Regions from separate parts of the Homo sapiens genome. Here region 2 is linked to region 1. Evidence: fine-mapped expression QTL. Tissue or cell type: whole blood. Region 1 holds a variant in brackets; the other region holds the start of a gene. All regions are shown on one strand. Distances are from middle to middle. Region 1 overlaps TG (thyroglobulin). Region 2 holds the start of SLA (Src like adaptor).

The links. PIP is the estimated chance that this variant, and not a neighbour inherited with it, causes the effect.
Region 2: it holds the start of SLA, and the variant in region 1 is the best candidate, but not a certain one, in a credible set for the expression of SLA in whole blood (TOPMed, PIP 0.77).

What each region holds. Positions count from the first base shown.
Region 1 is chr8:133,036,138-133,039,053 of GRCh38, reverse strand. All of the region lies in intron 41 of TG (thyroglobulin), which reads right to left. SLA (Src like adaptor) reads left to right here. Exons shown (of 9, transcript NM_001045556.3): 9 at 317-2,326. The coding sequence ends at 530. Among named protein-coding and RNA genes, the nearest start is that of MIR7848, 9.0 kb to the left of the region's middle. The variant C/T (reference allele first, on the strand shown) is at 1,287.
Region 2 is chr8:133,101,384-133,104,299 of GRCh38, reverse strand. It overlaps SLA (Src like adaptor), which reads left to right and starts at 1,698. Exons shown (of 9, transcript NM_001045556.3): 1 at 1,698-1,747. The region is part of intron 43 of TG (thyroglobulin); the gene reads right to left.

The DNA.
Region 1 (2,916 bases):
TACAAAAAATTAGCTGGGCGTGGTGGTGGATGGTTGTAATCCCAGCTACTCAGGAGGCTAAGGAGGGAGAATCGCTTGAGCCTGGGAGGCAGAGGTTGCAGTGAGCAGAGATTGCACCACTGCACTCCAGCCTGGGCAACAGAGCGAGACTCCATCTTAAAATAAATAAAGAAAAATAATAATAAGTTAGAGAAATAGTCACCAGGATTTTTGTTTTTCTTTTCCTCCTGTTCTCATTCTCTTGCCCTTTATCTCCTCCTCTCTCTATGACTCTCTTTTTTTCCCTTTCTCTACTGCCTTTTCTTCTGGCCCACAGACTGCAGGAGGACCCCGAGGGAACAGAGAACCCGCTTGGGGTAGACGAGTCCCTTTTCAGCTATGGCCTTCGAGAGAGCATTGCCTCTTACCTGTCCCTGACCAGTGAGGACAACACCTCCTTTGATCGAAAGAAGAAAAGCATCTCCCTGATGTATGGTGGCAGCAAGAGAAAGAGCTCATTCTTCTCATCACCACCTTACTTTGAGGACTAGCCAAGAACAGACACAATGGTTCATGCCCAAAAGGAACAGAAGTTCCAACTATTGCCTGGGATCTTGCGAAAAGCGAGGTTCCCTGATCCCTGGGAGCCTCACGTATTTTAGAAGCCAAGAGAAGCCACATGGAGACTCAAATTCGCATCTTCTCTATCCACATCATGACCAAAGGAACCCCTCCCTGGTGTCTGATCAGGGCTGTGGCATCACGAAACATTGGATCATGACATGTCGGGCGATGCTTGGAAGAGCCCAGCATGTATGTATGCACACATTGTGTGTGTGGGAAGGACAAAGCCACTCTCACAAGAAAGGGCACCAGGACTGCTCTCCAAGGAACTGGACCTGTCCAGACAGTTACACTCCAAGGTCATTGGAGAGAACTTCTGTATGGGCAAGCCTGAGAGGGAGAGGAAACAAAAGCTGTGTCCTGGCAGAAGGTCTGGGTTTGCAGATGGGTGCCCTGAATGGAACTACTTTAACTAATCCATAGGGACTTCTGGTATGCTTTCCTCTCTTTTTAAAGGAACTTCGTGACACTAAACATTAGCCCAAAGGACTTCTTAGCCTTCAATTGGGAGATACCTTTGGTCTGCTCCTGCACCAAAGCCATATGGGTGGAAGTCAGTTGGCCTCCCTGGTTCTGCAGAGGGCCAGAAGAATGAGAGAGAGGAAGACTGCTGGCAGGGAAATCGAGGAGGCGAGACTAGAACTGCACCAGCTTCCCTGATGTCTGCAGCCATGGCTTTGCAG[C/T]GCAGACAGAGCTTCTCTGGGATGCTGGGATTCTTGCCTGTATGAATGCATCAAGTATTCATTTATTGCCCGAATAGGCATTGCATTAAGTCCTCTGTAAGGTGTCAGGCAAGCCAAAAAAAAAAAAAAGATGCGTAAGTCCTAACCCCCAACAGAGGTGTTCACAGTGTAGACAGGGAAAAAATGTATAAACAAATGTGTAAAAAGAGAAATCAGCTCATGGCTTAGGATGGAATTAGAGACAGGTGAGGGACACTCAGGAGCTCATTTTCCAGCTGCTCTTCAGAGTGGAAGGGCTGGCTGGATCGGGTAGGTAAGAATAGCTGGATTTTTTAGAAAAGAAATGGATACAGTCTAAAGAATTAACTCACCCGGTACTTTATTCTAAGAAGGGTCTGGCATCCATATGAGGAAAAATGCTCAGCTCCAGGAAAGATGGGGAGTCCAAGTGGATTAATGATGTCATGCATAATTTTAAGAGACAAGGGAGAAAACACAATGTATAGCCAGAGAAGGAGAAGCTCCCATCCAAATCCTACTAGGAAGAGAGTGGGCTGCAGATGAATCTGTGACTCATGTTTCCCTGTTTCAAAGGGATCCTGGGGAAGGAGGGGAACATGCTTGCAGTATCTCTCCCTGTCTGTCTGCTCACATAAGCATTCCGTCCATCTGAGCTCATCGTGCTACTGGTATGTGTATGTGCAGTTACACAGTTTTCTGTATCATAGATTCTAGTGTGTTTATACAAGGAGACATCTGTGGTTTCCCCAACCGTTCCAAAAGGCTATTTCAAAGGAACCAGCCAACGTATGAGAAATGAATGTAACACTGTGGACATTGACTTCCCGCATAAGGCAGGGTGACCCCCTGAACTCCAGATGTCTGCACAGTATCTTATGTGTTGTTTTCCGTTGTGACGAATGTGATTGGAACATTTGGGGAGCACCCAGAGGGATTTCTCAGTGGGAAGCATTACACTTTGCTAAATCATGTATTTATTCCTGATTAAAACAAACCTAATAAATATTTAACCCTTGGCACACAGGGAGAGTTTCTGGGTTGAGGAGGATGGGTGGTTCATTCAGAAGCTCAGTGGGTTTCAAATTTTCAAATAAACGTGCAACTAGAGAGAGAGGAGTAAAGATCACCCAGAGAAACCTGGTGCCAGTTAGCAGCTCAGCATCTTCTTTAGGTGTGACCTTAAGAAAAAGCAGATTGTATGACTCTGGGGGGTGTCTTACGAAACTTGAAGATGGGCCTAAGGGATTGAAGGAAACACCAAATTCTGAACGATTGTTATAAAAACGTCCTGCCTAGATTTTCTGCACGTTACTTGTGATAGCTGCGCTATTTGTTCTTCCAAGAATTTCTTTCTGCAGATATTTCTGGACACCTACTAAATAGACACTGCTCAGGTACTGGGGCTATAGCAATGAAAACCAGATGAGGTCTCTGATATCATGGAGCTTGACATCATAAATAAACAAGATGCTTGGTAATGATGGTGATGAGGATGAGGGCAGGCTCCAAGCAGTCACCTGGCAGGCAGGACATCCTTCAGGTCCAGGCTTAGGAAAGGCCTCCAAGCAGAGGCAATGTTTGGGCTGAGGCCTGAAAGATGAGCAGCAAA
Region 2 (2,916 bases), 65 kb before region 1:
CTTGAAACATTCCAGTAACTGCCCACTGCAAGGAGAATAAAGTCACTTTTCTGATGGCCTGAAAGATCTCATAACTGGTCTTCTTCATCCCTCTGACTTCCTCTCCTCCCAGTCCCTCCACTGGCCACTGGATCTCCTAGCACTGACCTCCCTGTGACCCCCAAACAGCCAGGACCACTCCTGCCCCAGGGCCTTTGCACCCACTCTGTACCTCAATCCCCATCGCTGGCTCCCCATTGCTCAGGCCTCAGTCCAGAAGTCACCTCCTCCGAAAAGCCTTCTCTGACTGCCCCTAAAGTAATTGCCCCATTCCATCGCCTCCTCTGCAATGGCCCCACTTCAGTGTTCTTCAGGGCATTTCTAAGATCTGAAATTCTTTATTTACTTACATCATCTGTGTCCTTTCATGAGAACATGAACTCTCCGAGTCAGAAGCTTTATCTGTTTAGGTTACAACTGTGCCCTCTAAAGCCTAGAGAGAGTCCAGCGCACAGAAGCCTCTGAATAATCTATGTTGGAGAGATGCTGCATGGGTTAATGCTTGAATGACTCCTGACTTCACTGCTCCTTATGGTGTTAAGGGACAAGGACTTACTTCTCCATCAAGCACAGCTTGCTCAGGGCCAAGGGCTCACTGCACTTTTAGGAACTCACAAAAGTCTTTTCTTTCTAATTTCTTTTAAAATCAGAAGAAAAAATATAATAATAATGAAAATGTAATAATGAATCCAGCCTGGTTTACATTCATCCTTATAACAATGCAGTCATGAAATACAATATTTTAATATTTTGGGGGGGACAAGTCAGTCCTTCTGATCCTCAGCTTTCTCTGAACCATAATCCCAGCTCACAGGGCCCCTGGGGAGAATTAGACAACGTGACGTGTAAGCGTCAGCTGTGAGGGGTAATGTGGGGCTATAGCTCCAGGGTGGAGGGTTTACAGTGTGCAAGGGCATCCTAGAGCCATGAGACCTACAGGGCTCTCTGGGTGTTGGGAGATACCTCTTTCGCTTCTTATAACACTGCAAGAGACAGACAGGGTGGCTCTCACTGTGTCCATTTGAAGGCTAAAGAAACTGCAGCTCAGACCAGTTCAGCAACTCTCCTACATCGTGTGGCTAAAGCTAAGAATTGTGACCCATTTTTCTGAATCCAGGTCCCCGCGATGCCCTGGGTTCAGACCCTAACACCCTCCCGTCCCTGAGTGCTGGGGATTTAAGGCAGCAGTGCCTCCTTTCAGGAAATCACACACACACTGGAAACTCCTGCATACTCCTCTTACTATAATCTGTCACCAAAGACTGGATATTCCTGTGCTGGGGCTCGTGCCAGCGCCTCGGGCTGCCAGGTGCTGCTTTCCAACTCCCACATGGGCTGCCCTCCCCCTACTGCTACCCACAGGGCCCCCACTCCACCTGCTCCCAGACGAGGCCAACTCCTGGCCAAGCTTAGGGGCACAGCGGAGGCGCTCTGTTTCTGATTTTTCTCGCCTTCCTTGGAGATGCCTGTGCTTGGAAGGGAAGGCAGAACATTGCATCTTGGAACAAATCTGCTTTTGATCATGCAAATGAATGCCTGGATAATGTAGGCAGACTGTCAATTTCACCAGTTAGAAAGAAAGAGAAAAGGGGGAGAAATTCCCCATGACAGCGACTGATGAAGAATTTCAATAGAAAGCTGCTACTTCAGAAAATAAGATCATTTGCTGCGAATGGAGAACATCTCAGGCAGCCCTGATGCTCCACCGGTAGGTTGCTAACTTTGCTGTCATTGGGACCCCCTGGGTGGGCCATAGGTGGCCTGGGGTGGTATGTGGGGGAGGGTCTTCAGAGGGACTTGATGGATCCTGTACCCACCCTCCGTCTTTGGTCTGAAGAAAATGGGTGGGTCTCTGCTGGTGGTGAGTAGCTCCAGGGGGCAGGACTTGGGGTAAGAGGCTCCACTCCTGTCCCTCCGTGACTTCCCTGGGAAGCTGCACTGCATGTGTTTGTGGACTGGGATCCAGCTGATACTTATGCAGCGTTGGCATGAGTAGAGAGCATGCATTTGTGTTTACTACAATTTGGAAAATTGGTCTCAGGTCAGCTGAGGTGGTTCAGAGATTGGACGTTCTTTGTATTCCTGCTTTCTGTGTATAATTATCTGAAGAAGGGATAACAGCTTTGGACACTAATCTTAATATTAAAATTAAAAAATTAAGGGAAAAGAACGAACATTTATTGAAGCCAAACTATTTTCCAGATATTGTTGTGTATTTGAATTTTTGAACATCTTTATGAGGATATTTACTAATCATCTCCCAACTTCACAGATAGGGAAACTGAGGCTCAGACTCTGGGTAACTTGGATGCTCGTGATTGCAATCCAAGGACACCCAGGACACTCTCCCTGCTGTGTTGACACATGACCAAGGGAGCGGGGTCCTGGTCAGTTCCTGGCCATTGTGTCACTCCAGCTGACAGTGCTGCTATGGGGCCCAATGGCACCTGATCTCCACCTCCTGAGGTCTTGGAATAGATGTCCATCTCTCCATATAGTATGTATCAATGGTGTTTCAGTTGTTTGCCTTGTCTGTTATCATCTGACTGCAAGCCCTTCTGAGGGGAGGAATTCAATTTGTATTTTATGCTGAAACACCTGGCCCAGCATGACTAAACAAACAGGTGTTGGTGTTACAAAAACATGCTGGACACCCTGTTTAGGTGGATGTGGCAATTTACTGCAATTGATATGTCCTGTTTCTCAGCCCCAGATGGGGCAGGAGGGGCTGGGTGGGTATCAAAGGACAGAGGATGGAGTAAAAGGCATGGCTGAGATTGAGGCCCTCCAGAACCTGCCATCTTCAGGTCCTCCTTGGCTGATGGTGGTTGGACCCAGGTGCCATGGAGCCTTCTTGGGGCAAACAGAGAAATGCAC